2 linked regions of the Homo sapiens genome follow. The protein of the gene in region 2 interacts with the protein of the main gene of each other region in a biochemical or structural test. Each region holds a gene or a part of one and is shown on either strand. Other genes may lie near its edges.

Evidence for each region. The genes of interacting proteins can lie anywhere in the genome.
Region 1: the proteins of FEZ2 (region 2) and NEK1 form a complex in vitro, tested with the Homo sapiens proteins (one study listed by BioGRID).

What each region holds. Positions count from the first base shown.
Region 1 is NC_000004.12:169,602,560-169,609,595, forward strand, and holds part of NEK1 (serine/threonine-protein kinase Nek1), read right to left. Parts: intron 120-7,036; 5' UTR 72-119; coding exon 1-71. UniProt on the Homo sapiens protein: Phosphorylates serines and threonines, but also appears to possess tyrosine kinase activity. Involved in DNA damage checkpoint control and for proper DNA damage repair.
Region 2 is NC_000002.12:36,581,168-36,588,203, reverse strand, and holds part of FEZ2 (fasciculation and elongation protein zeta-2), read left to right. Parts: intron 1-4,734; coding exon 4,735-4,851; intron 4,852-6,772; coding exon 6,773-6,914; intron 6,915-7,036. UniProt on the Homo sapiens protein: Involved in axonal outgrowth and fasciculation.

The sequences.
Region 1 (7,036 bases), on a different chromosome or scaffold from region 2:
GTAGATTTAACAAGAATGGCTTTTCCAAATGAACCTTCTCCAATCTTCTGTAGTCTAACATACTTCTCCATGATTCTTTTTCTAAGGCATCTTTACAGATATGCTAGACATTTAAAAAACTAACAAAAAAGATAAAGCATTTATAACATGAGATAAAACATTATAACTTCATAACAATTTTAATGTTTAATTCAAATTCTAATTCTTTAGTGATTTGCTAACATTTTAAAAAAGGATATTTAATATATTCACTAAAAGTTACACTTTATATACTTTACTAGTACAACCTAATTACATCCAAAAAAGAGAAAAAAATGTGATATTTCAATTTTATAAGAATGCTTTGGAAAGCCAAATACTGCATATACTTAATGTATGGAGAGAAAGGCAAACTTACATGAATTAATTAGTAGCATTACTTTATTTTCTCCAAAAAGAATGAAAACCTAATAATACACTATTTCTTGAAGTTATTTAACTAATCCCCTCTTATTCAACATTCGTTTAAAATGTTTGCTAGTATAGAACAATTTTGGATAGTTTTTGTACACATATTTTAATGTGCTTATTGTAAGGATTTCCTTAGGATAAATTCTGAATTCAAAGAATATGCCCATGTTACAGTATGGCTTTCAAACATATTAAGTGTCTTAACAGAACTGTCTACTAATACGTATTTAGCCAGTAGTGCCTGCTACTAGGTACCCTCATTAACACTGGTTATTATTATTTCTTGTATTTAGGGAGATGTTTACTGTAATGTCATTTATAACAACAAAACACTGGTTGTTATTTATTAAAATCTTTGAGAAGCAATAAAGGGTAGTAGTTAAAGAACACTAAAAAGTTTAAATCTTAGCTTTATCACTTATTTGTTATGTAAACTTAGGCAAGTTACTTATCTCTATGTGCTCAGTTTGGTCACATGTAAAATGTGAATAACCATAGTACATATTTACAGAAGTGTTGGAAGAATTAGTTAATGTAAGAATGTACTGAAAACAGTACTTGGCACATATGAACACTGTGTCACTATTTGTTATTGTTGTTACTCCATACGTCTAATGGGGAAAATGGTGTTTCGTTTTTATTTTGATTTCTTTTGCTTACCAGTGAATTTGAAAAATTCTTCCACATTTATTGAACATTTTTTTTTTTTTTTTTTTAAGACAGTCTCACTCTGAAGCCCAGGATGGAGTGCAGTCACACGATCTCGGCTCACTGCAATCTCCACCTTCCAGGTTCCAGCGATTCCCCTGCCTCAGCCTCCCAAGTAGCTAGGATTACAGGTGTGTGCCACCACACACAGCTAATTTTTGTATTTTTAGTAGAGACGGGGTTTCGCCATGTTGGCTGGTCTTGAACTCCTGACCTCAGGTGATCTGCCCGCCTTGGCCTCCCAAAGTGCTGAGATTAGAGGTGTGAGCCACCATGAGCGGCCACATTTATTGAACATTTCTATTTTTTCTCTTTTGAACTATTCATCCATGTTCTTTAATCATTTTATACTGAGTTGGTCTTTAATTTGTAAAAACTCCTTATGTAATGAAGTCCTTATCTGTCATAAATTATTTTCCCTTATATCCTAGTTGCCTTTAAGTATAAAAGATTATTTTGATATAAACAAATGTATTAATCTTTTCTTTATATTTCTACTTTTAGTATCACACTTAAACCCTTACCATACCAAAACAATTGATTAAGGTCATTAGTATCTTTAGGAATAGTAATTTCAAAAGAGTGGTAGTTTCAGGAGAAGCCAGAATACAATAAGCTAGCTAGTGAAAGCTGAAAAAAGTGTGAGAAAGAGTCATAAGAGCAATAATGTGTACAACCTATTGGCAATATCACCCTTATTGTAGACATACATGAATTTACTATGCTAATCTGAAACTAATAAACATTTAATTCACCTAGCTTGCTCTTTTTTATTTCCATTCATAGCAGGCTTCCAATGTGTGATTCCTTTCTAGGAGAAAATAAGTTTGTCGTGAAACTCTTTTTAAATTTCTGTGGCAGTTTACCATATTTCTCATTGTAAATTAAAAAATCCATGTTCTTATCTCATCCATCAGTGCCAAATTTGTTTTTAACTTTATTTTGCCTCTAAAAATGATCCAATCTCCTTAAATGACAAACATCATATGCTGTGCCTACAAGACCAGACCACAGGCCAGAACTCAGCCTGTGGTAGCACTGATGAGATAAGTATGACTCATGAAATTTTGTGAGAAAGAGCCTTTCTCTACCTTAGAAAACAAGATTGCCTTTAGCAACTTTAAGAGAAACAAGAAATAAACCATTATTATAGCATTTTAGCATCAGTGAGTTAAAGAAGAAAAGTTGTTCCAAATATATTTTCAAGCCCAAGTTGTGTTAACTGGCACAATATAATGGCTATCTGGGCACCAGCCACAATTTAATGATTTTTCCAGAACATGAATGTTTAATATATTACATTACTATGCTACTTACAAAAAAAAATCAAGATAAACTCATCTTAGTAATCTAAATTTCAAAAATTAAATTAAATAATAGCCATATAATGAGATTACTTCACAATCATCATTATTCTGCGACTTTCTGCCAAGAGAGGGAAACAAAATTAGTCAATTTGGCCATTCCTTAAAATTAAGTTGCCAATTCCTTTCTAGGGACCACACTAATAAGACAGAAGCTCCAAAAGTCCCCAGTGTTGCATTCTACTGCCAACAACATTACTGAACATTGTGGTTCTAACTCTATAAAGCAGACCTACTGATCCTGTTAGTAAAGAAAGATGACTCTAATTGCCATCAAATATGTCAAATGCAGACACTTTTCTGAACAACAAAAGACTTGTGGTAGATGACTTTCAGGAAAACAGACAAACTCTCCTTTTTTGTAATGTCAGTGTACAATAAAGGAAGTAAAAGGGAAAACATGAAAAAATAGATTACTTTCAGCATCTTACAATATATTTAACTGAGCTACTTCCTAGTTGTGAGACTTCTCAACTGAATTATAATTCCATAAAATTTTTCATACCAAATGAAATAGAAAACAATAACAAATTGTACTATAGGCTTCCACATACAAAATCATAACTTATAACTGAAGGAACATACGAATCCTGTTTACTTCAGTATTGTAATAAACTCAAATTAATGTTTGCCTTTTCTACCATTCAGTTTCCAACATCAAATGAAAATCACAATACCAACTTTACTCACTCTATAGTGTTCTTAAGGTCTCTAATAATTATATCAATTCAATCTCTATAATACATAGCTGATCCTGAAGATAAGCAACAAGGAAAAAATCAGAGACTTTTTTGATATTTGAGCTTTCCAAAGAGTTATGTCACCTAATAAAGCAATGAATTCAGAATCAAGAGACAAGACTAGCTACATAATCAAACGCTAACCATCTGCCTTTTGTGGACTTCAGTTTCTTTATCTAGAAACACGAAAGATTTAAACCTAATGCCATTTTATAGACCTTGCCAAGTCGACTAGTCTATGACTCAAGGAGAAGAAAATTAAAAAGTCAGAAAATATATAATGTCAACACTGTTTAGAATTGTACTCTTAGCCACAAAGAGTAAGAGTGATGGGGAAAGCCATTCCATCAAAAAATTAAAAGAAGTCATACTAATTTCTTTAGCCTAATTATTTAAAAAGTAAAAATAAATAAACTGTAATCTACAGTTAAGCATACTAGATTGACCCGTACATATTTACCTCTACTACTTGTCCAAACCTGAGGAACATGACTTTAAAGGGATTACCAAAAAGGCAAAACAGAAGAGAAGGCAACAGCAATACAGTTCTAGAAGCTGGCAAACACAAAAGAACATGCAGCAACTGACTTAGGAGAATAGAGAAAAGCTGTACCTTAAGCCAGCAGTGGGAAATAAGTCAGAAACAAGTCAATTCCCACCACAAACTAGCTCAATAATTGGAAGTACTGGGGCATCTAAGAGTGAGGATAATATTAGGACTCAAACAGGATTGGTGAAGAGCTTGTGTAAGAAGTGTCAGACACTTAGTTTGCCTCCTCCACCTCTCCCAGTCAGATAAGTACTCCTCTCCCATCTTGAAAGAAGACCACAGATATCTCTAGATTGGGTACACCAGGCACAACTAAGAATGGAAATCCCATCTATGATCTAGGAGATTAAGTGAAAGTCTACATAATAAATCGTGAGACTCTCTTTCAACCATGATGGTGTTCTTAGTATCAGATCACCTCACCTTCCAAAACAACTTAAAACCTGAACAAAATATATAAAGAAACAGCAATGCATTGAGGGGCTATAATCACCGAAAGGTGGAAACATACTAGTGGGTTCTACATTCATCCCAGCCTTTTCCCTGAAGAGAGTTTCCAAACTGTGCTACAGTACAATGGAGCTCAAGTATAAAGCAGCAGTCTTGCTGAGGAGAGAAAGCGGTCAGAGTTCAGGGCTACCAAAATCCTGAAGAGGAAAAATAATAGAAGGAGTCCAAAAATCTACAGTAAGTTCTGCTCCTGTTATTCTGTTCCTAAACTGTGCATACATGGAGGAGGACTGAAACAGTCTCATCCTAACAAAGCCTAAAAGCAACCATGGATAAAATCAAAGTTATTCACTGATACTTCATCAGACTGCCAAAACAAAACTAACAATTTTTACAAGATACATGTTTCAGAGTCTCTAAGACTTTTCATTCACAATGTCTAGTATCCCATCAAAAAATAATGATGCACATTAAACAAAAACAGATATAGACTCACAAATGACTCAAACATGAAGTTACTAATAGAGGACTTGAAAGTAACCATGATTAATTAATATGTCTAAGAAAACAAGATAAAAAGATGGATAAAACAGATTTTTTAAAAGATGGAGAATTTCAACAAAGAATTAAAATTTTTTTTTAATTTTTAATTTTTTTTTGAGACAGAGTCTCGCACTGTTGCCCAGGCTGGAGTGCAGTGGCGCAGTCTTGGCTCACTGCAAGCTCCACCTCCCAGGTTCACGCCATTCTTCTGCCTCAGCCTCCCAAGTAGCTGGGACTACAGGCGCCTGCCACCACGCCCGGCTAATTTTTTTGTATATTTAGTAGAGATGGGGTTTCACCGTGTTAGCCAGGATGGTCTCGATCTCCTGACCTTGTGATCCGCCCGCCTCAGCCTCCCAAAGTGCTGGGATGACAGGTGTGAGCCACCGCGCCTGGCCTCAAAATTTATTTCTAAAAAGTGGACATTCTAAAACTACAATATAAAATATCTGAAATTAAGAACTCATTCATGGATTTACGGCAGACAGGACACAGCAGAAGGCAGGATTACTAGCCTATAAAATGAACCAATAGAAAATATTCAACAAAAAAACTGAGAGAAAAATATTAAAAAACAACAACACACACCGGGATGGGGGTGGGGGTGGAGAAAGAAATGTATAGGAAGACTTAATATCATAAAGATTTTCATTCCTAATCTCTACAGTTAATGCTGTCCTAATAAAAACATAAGCTTTGGGGCTGGGGGTGATTAGACAGGCTGATTTTAAAGTTCAGACACACACACACATACACACACACACACACACACACAAAGAAGAAGAAGAACAGCCAGAGAAATATTGAAAAAGAAGAGCAATGAAGGAAAATTTGTTTGGCTTAATATCAAAACACATTACAAAGCTACAATAATTATGAAATAGGCAAATCACAGGAAGTCCAGAAATCAAAAAACTTTTAAAACTTGGTTAATAATCATAGTGACATTTCAAATCAGTAGGAAAAAAGATGAATTTTGAAATAAAAAGTTCAAAGCCAGCAGTGAGACAACTGGGTAGCCATGTGGGGAAAAAAAGTTAATTTATTCCCTCATTTTACACCAACCTAAATTCTAGATGCTAAAATACTGAAATGTAAGAAATAAAAGCATAATAGTAATAAAATAAAACATGGGAGAATGACTTCTGTCTTAGAGTGGTTAGCTGAAGCACAACACAAAATCAAAAAACCTTGAGGGATTAATATGACTAGACCAATATTTTAGCTATTACAACGATCTCATTTTTCTAACAAATAAAAAACTCGTACATATTTATAAGACCAAAAAACACAACAATCCAAAAGAAAAGTGGACAAAGGATATGAAGTTAAACGTTAACACTGAGAATGAATACAAATTATGTTAAAATGTGCCACGATACCCAATCTCCTGTAAAACGATATACAATTTTGGCCGGGCATGGTGGCTCACACTTGTAATCCCAGCACTTTGGGAGGCCGAGGCAGGCGGATCACTTGAGGTCAGGAGTTTGATGTCAGGCTGACCAACATGGTAAGACCACTGTCTCTACTAAGAATACAAAAAATTAGCTGGGTGTGGTGGTGCAGGCCTGTAATCCCAGCTACTCGGGAGGCTGAGACAGGAGAATCGCTTGAACCTGGGAGGCAGAGGTTGCAGTGAGCTGAGATCACACCACTCCACTCCAGCCTGGGTGACAGAGCGAGACTCCTTCTCAAAAAAAAAAAAAAAAAAGAAGAAGAAATACAATTTTAAAATACAAGGGGTAAGTTTTATGTTATGTATATTTAACCACAATTTTTTTAAAAAAGCACAAGAGACGGCATGTTTCATCAATTAGAATGGCAAAATTCACAGTTGATTATTGTACTGTACTGTGGGGGAATAGCAGGAAACAATATGGTGGGACTATAAATTGGTACAAGCACTAAGGAAAATAATTTGGCAACATCTACCAAAATTATAAGGGGACAGAAACTTTGATGTAGTGATTCAATTTCTAGCAATTTACCCTACAAATATTTCCAAATGTAGGAAAACAAAGTATCTACAAAGTTATCCTCTGCAGCACTGTTTCTAATAGAGCAAAATGTAATCATTCACATACAGTCAACACAGCAACTTTTAAACTGATATAATTTCTTAATACACTGTTAGATTTTTAGGGATCAGAATAATAAATATGGCATGCTATCATTTGTTTAGTAAAAGGAAATACATAAGTATATATGCTTACAGTTACTCATATATG
Region 2 (7,036 bases):
ATACAAAATTAGCCAGGCGTGGTGGCGCATGCCTGTAATCCCAGATACTTGGGAGGCTGAGGCAGGAGAATTGCTTGAACCTGGGAGGCAGAGGTTGCAGTGCGCCGAGATCACGCCACTGCACTCCAGCCTGGGTGACAGAGCGAGACTCTGTCTCAAAAAATAAAAAAAAAAACAGCCTTACCTGGAAAAACTCAGCAGATGAAAGTGAACACGTGATCATTCACCTATCATCTCTCTGTTGTGACATGACTATTCTGGTGATGAATAGAATTGAAATCAGAACTCTGTTTCTCAGGGAGGATTAGCACACACTGAGTTTCTGAAAAACAAATGGGCAATAAGGACTATGTAAGAAGTCATCACGTCATTCTATTACATGGTATATAATTAAGCATTTTTTTTTTAATCTGGCAAAGTGACTGTATTTACCATTGCCACCTGGTGCTCTGTTCGTGCCGTGACTAAGCTATGTAAAATTTACCCTTTGAAAGCATTCTTTAGATTATTTTACTTATAAAACCAAGTGTATAGAAATTTTTTTTGACAAAAGAAGAATGGTTTTTGCATTAAAAAGAGAAAAACATTCAGGAAAACTAGTTTGCTAGATTGCAGTTTTAAATTTTTCTTTGATTGAAGATTAAGATGGCACACTTCTAAATTTGATATGTCTTTTTTAGAGTAAGGCAACTGGTATCTTTCAAATTCTTACGTGGGCACATTTTTTCCATTTGATGTATCTTCAGTTTTATACAGGGAAACAGTACCACCAGGTCTGTATCTAACCCTGGCATTGGAAGGAGTGATGGGAATGCTTGGCAAAGAGAAGGCACATTTAATGCTGAAGGGAGGAGTGAATAATGATACCCATGACAGCCAGGGCTAGTTTGCAAAGCCTGAAAGATATTCCAGCTCTTAGCATATGCCATCTCTGTGGGGAATGGACTTGGCTCTCTCTCTGGAAAGATGATCTGGGATCATTTCTGTTGTCATGGAAATTTATTATAATAGTTTACTGTTATTACTCATGTGTTTTGGCCATAACCCTATTCTAAATCTGGTGCCATTCTTGAATATACTTATATGATAGAATGCTTATCATTCATTTCAGCTTAAGAACATCTTCTGTGCTGTATTTCTCCTTCCATGTGCATTTCTTTCAGGACAGGGACTTTTGTATGCATCTTTATACCTTTAAGAGTAGAAATAAGAAAAAGATAATGTCTTCCACAGAAGCAATTTGATTGATTGATAGATTGAGAGAGTGTCTCCCTCTGTTGCCCAGGCTGGAGTACAGTGGCGCCATCATAGCTTACTGCAGCCTCCAACTCCTGGGCTTAAGCGATCTTCCCGCTCCAGCTTCCTGAGTAGCTAGACTACACACGAGTACCGCCATGCCTGGCTAATTTTAAGAAAATATATTTCTGTAGAGACGAGGTCTTCCTGTGTTGCTCAGGGTGGTCTTGATGTCCTGACCTCAGGAGATCCTCCCACCTTGGCCTCCCAAAGTGTTGGGATTACAGGTGTGAGCCATGGCAACCTGGGCTTCCTTAGGAGTAATTTTTTTTTTTTTTTTTGAGACATGGTCTGGCTCTGTTGTCCAGGCTGGAGCGCAGTGGCACCATCTTGGCTCACTGCAACCTCCACCTCCTGGGCTCAAGTGATCCTCCCACCTCAGCCTCCTGAATAGCTGGGACTACAGGCATGTGCCATCATGCCTGGCTAATTTTTTGTAGCAATGGGGTTTCACCATGTTTCCCAGGCTGTTCTCAAACTCCTGAGCTCAAGCAATCCACCCGCCTCAGCCTCCCAAAGTGCTGGGATTACAGGCATGAGCCACTGTGCCCACCCCGGATTAATTTTAAAATTAAAACTTTTAGTATTTATAAGCCAGAAGGGGAAAAATAAAACAAAATCATGGTCCTCAAGTTGCAACATAGGAAGAGTGATTGGGAAGGGGGTGTGAAGTGTTCGAAGTGTAAGGATCGATGAAACTAATCGGTAGGTCTACTCCATGGTATCGACATGCCTTTGTGATCACAGTGTGCCACATTTTCATCTTCTACAGTATAGAAATCATACATCCCCTCTCATCAAGAGCCTAGTCTCTTGATCTTTCTCCTTCTTTAAAAAATTAAATTATTAAAGGAACAGCTGTCATAGTTTAAAAAGTAAATTAGAACTATAGGACTTAAATGAAAAGGCAGTCTCTGCTCCACTTGATTTCTCCTTACCAGAGGTGGCCACTTTAAATGATATCAGCTATTTCTTTTAGCAGATAACATGCTCATGCCATTTTACTTGATATTATTTTCTCAATTTTAGACTTTATTTATTTTCTACCCAGAGGGTGAAGGTTTAGCTCTCTTCTGTCCTTTGCCAATCCCTGACACTATACCCTCCCAAAAACTTCCCTTTCCCCATCTTCCCAATGTAATTACATAACATCTGGGGTTGAATTAATCTTCATCATTTATATTTACTATTTAAATGTGCACAGTTGACCCATTATGATATATTATGTTTACATTTTCTCTTTTTCTACTTAGGTTTTTTCTTAGGATACTACCTGCCTTTTTGTGGTTTATTTAGTTTATAATTAGCTGACCAGTTCAGCCTCAATAGAGCCGTAGAACTCATTTTAGTAAATGGACCGCACTAGGTAATCTATCTAGTCCTTCTGCTCTCCCTCCCCACCCACCTCTCCCTCTTCTCCATGCTCTCTGCAATAAAAATTCTAATCTGAATGTTACTCTCTAGTGTAGCTTTACAGTCATCATTCTGGGATTTTCACTTTACTATCATTACGAGAATTCTCTTTGTCACTTGTTATTAGACCACATATCTTTTTTCTTTTTCATTTTCCTCCTGGTAGCTTTTTGAGAAAGGGCACATGAGAGGTAAATTTTTTCAGAACTTGTATGTCTGAAAATGTCTTTATCCTAGCCCCTGCCTACTTGTTTTAGCTGGATATAGGATTCTAGGATGGAATTTCTCCAAACATGGAAGTTACATCGATTATTTTCTAGCATCTATTGTTGCTATTGAGAATTCACTTGACATTTTGATTCCTGATCCTTTTAATGTGATTTTTTTTTCCCTCCCTGGAAGCTTTTAGATTCTCCTTTTTTCCACACAGTGTTCTTAGTTCATGATGCTGTGTTGAAGGTCATGGCCAGGCCTTTGCTAGGCTGATGGTGCAGTAAGAAATAAAATGAGAAGGGCTGTCGTCACTGCGCAGGAGCCTGGAGTTGCATTATAGGGTTGTAGGTGGACCGTGCAGTGTTGATGGGGCCCTTCTCCCAGCCTAATGTTGGAAAGTCAGTGTGCCAGTGCTTCTTCCCTTGGCCCTTCTCACGTGCAGGTTTCTTACTCTGTAGGCTGTGTTCACCTGCAAACTTCAGATGCTCATGTTATGAAGAACTAGGGAAGCAGTAGGAACCTACATCCATTCCATTGTGTCCTCAGCTTTAGACATATATCCTCTGCATGGATAAATAATTTTGCCAGGTAAAATTTTATCATGTTAGTTCTACACTATGTAATAGAATGACATGGTGGCTTCTTACGTAATCCTTGTTGCCCATTTATTCTTTGGAAACTCAGTGTGTGCTAATCCTTCCTGAGGAATAGAGTTCTAGTTTCAGTTCCATTCAACACCTGAATAGTCATGTCATGACAGATAGGTAGATGATAGACAGATGTTCCCTTGTTCATTTTAATCTGCTGAGTTTTTTCAGGCAAAGTTTTTACAATCAGTACTGGTACTAAACTCTAAGGCTGTTTATATTGGTGTGGGCAGGGTTAAGGGAAACAAACTTGATGTGGTGCAATCCCCCAGGGCTGGCAACAGAAACTGGTACTTTAGCAGTCCTGGGCATGAAGAGGTAAGGAGAGGGAGAAATTACCATAAACTGTTGAGATTGGCCTTGTGGGAGAAGTCTGCTAATCAGAGCTATGGCTTTGGTGAAGAGCCATAGTCAACAAATGACAGTCTGACAGGGAGGAAGACAGCAAAATACATGCCCAGCCTTCACCATCCCACCTTCCAGTCTGCCAGTGTCTGCCAATGGGGTTTAACCCACCTGGAAGCCAGACAGCAAGGGCATCCTTTGATGTCTTCCATAAAGGTCGTCCTCCTGGAGCGCAGAGCAGGGTGGAAGATGGTGAGGAGGTGAGTGGTGAATCACCAGCTTAGTTAGGTTTAAAGATGTTTTTGGAACCTAGGGTTATTATTTTTTGTTAAGAAGGAATGTGCAATTGGAAGGGCTAAGTGTGACGCTCATGGACAGATCCCGCCTTTCAGGGAGTTGATCATCTTTTACTCAGATATTAGAAGTTAGTTTGCAAGTAACTAACTTTTATGTTTTCTTTAGAATGTTAACGTCTACCAATCTTAGTGTGTGTTGCTAACCCTGCCCATATTCTCCCTTCTATTCACTGTAATTCCCTATGACTTGCTAATGAATACCGTATTTTTTTCTGCATATCTGTCAGCTTTTATAGCAGTCTTATGCAGCATCTCAGTGATTTCATATTTATTCTACATTCTTCTCATTTCTGTTCAAGATGAATATATACTCATTGCCTGGTACAGAGTGATTGTAATAATTTCTCCCTCTTGAGGGAAGGCTCTTAGTAGTTGCTTTTCTCTGCAGCCTCTTTTACTCAGAGCTGTTAACTTTGTTTTGATGAGGATGTCCTGCTTTTAATGATGGGTATTTTTGTTTTTAGGTAAGTGACAGTTTGCTCTTTGATACATCAGATGATGAAGAGCTGAGAGAACAGCTGGATATGCACTCAATCATCGTCTCCTGTGTTAATGATGAACCCCTCTTCACGGCAGACCAGGTATAGAGGAGATCCTCAGCAACGCAAGGAAAGGAGACTCTAGAGCTGAAAAACGGCTTCTTGTTATGACAGTAAATGATGGCTGTTGGTTTACTTATCTTTCCTATTTTTTTCTGGTTATACAGGCTTAATAGTTAACTCTTCCACAGAGAAAAATAAGTATTTGTGATCTGAAGCAGAAGGGATTATGTTAGTTGGGAAGGTTTCCAACAGAGGCCTTGTTGAAGATTATAGCAAGGTACCAAGGAAAGGTTGTTGCTTAACCCCAAACCAGAAAAATATTGTGAATTTCCTTGTTTCTTTAGATTTACCCAAACACGGACAAACTGTAAAGTATCTGTGTAGAAATTATTTAGTATCTTCAAAACCCTGGGTAAAAAGCATTAGCATGTATTAAAGTAACATATTGTGTGCCCCAGAAAGAAGTGAGCATTATTCCCGTGGAATGCGCTAATAAGGTCAACCCTGTATTCACTTAAAACCAGTCGAATCAGCTTTCTCATTTTCTGAATACTCTTCCCACCTCTGTTGTATTGTTGAAATGTGATGCCAGAACTTCTTCCTGAAATAAAATGTTCCATGGCTACTCGGACTGTGAGTTCTACCACACTCTATTTTTAGGCTGGAAAGATGAGATCAGTAAGGAGATACATTATGGCAAGCTTGGGAGGAGTACATTAAAAATTTACATTAAAATTGTGTTATTTGGATCCTCCTTAGTCATATTTGTGGTTGAATTGTTCTAGGCGTGGGAAGAATGTGGTGCTTAAAAAAGCAAGGTAATAGTAGGTTGGAAGGTTGTTTTGAGGTAGAGGGTAATCTAGGGATAGACATGACCTTGAGAATTCATTGTCCCCTCACTGACCTGCCTAATACCGTAAACTCTCCCTTTTTTTAAGAGTTAGAATAACAGATTCTGTAGGATCCTTGAGTGGCTCATTGTACCTTATTATATTTCCTGTTTTGGAGACTCTTCTTATAATTAACATAATCCCATCTCCTTCAGATTTGCCTTTGTTTTTCCTTGGTGGAAATCTTACCTGTTAAGCTTGTTAATTCATAAAGCATGGAAATATGCTCATGATGTCTTACTCCTTCATTTAATTGTGTTTAATTTTTTTTTTTAACTTTAGGTCCTTTTTTCTAACTATTGAGTAATTTTCCTGGGTTTCCTTTACATTTTCGCTGAGTTCTATATCCTTCTCAACTTTTAGAATCTGGAAAAGGGCAAGATACTGTTGTAAGATTTGAGCAGCACTGCACTAGACAGTAGATCATTGTTTAAAGTCAAATGTATTTCTGAAGTTTTTCTGCTTTTCACAGCATTTTTCTCTTTGGACTTCTACTTTTTGAGTAATTTAAAAAATCCCTTTTTTTCGTTGAATTAATATATAAAATTATTTTTCTGCTGTTGAAAGAATATTTTGCTGTCATAGAGGTAATTTCCCATTTATATATACTTTTTTTGTGCTATTGTATTTTATAAATTTTATGTCAGAATTTTTGATGAGATACCTTTAAATTGAGCACTTGTATGTCTATGGTAAATTTTCTGTTATTTGCTTTCTTCTAACGATTACTGTATGATCTAGCTCTGGTGTGTCTGAAGTAAATTATTATGTGTTTGTAGCACGATTACCTAGACTTTGCAAGACATGTTAGGGCCTTCTGAATCATGATGGACGTAGTAAATCCAATTCTATTTAGGTTTGTGTTTAGTATATTGTAATTTTTTCTTGATAAACCATGTTCACTCCTACAGTAAAAATTTTGATTATTTGGAGCATCCACACCTGAACACCATTGGTTAATGGAGAATTCAGTGCATTTCTGCTCTGGGTGCCTTAGGTGAGCACTGTGTTCCAGATAGATCATTTTCCTTTTGTATATTTGATTAACAGTGGTGTGTGTGTTTTCGAAGGTTATTGAAGAAATTGAAGAAATGATGCAGGAATCACCGGACCCAGAAGATGATGAAACCCCTACACAGTCAGATCGGCTTTCAATGCTTTCCCAGGAAATTCAAACTCTCAAGAGGTCTAGTACCGGCAGTTATGAAGAGAGTAAGGGAGCCTGCTGAAATCAATGATTTCTGTGCTTTTTGTCTGTATCAAATGTATAGTATGATCATCTCCAGAAAGCTTTGATTTCATCCTCCTTCTGTTTGTGTTTGTGTCCAAATTTA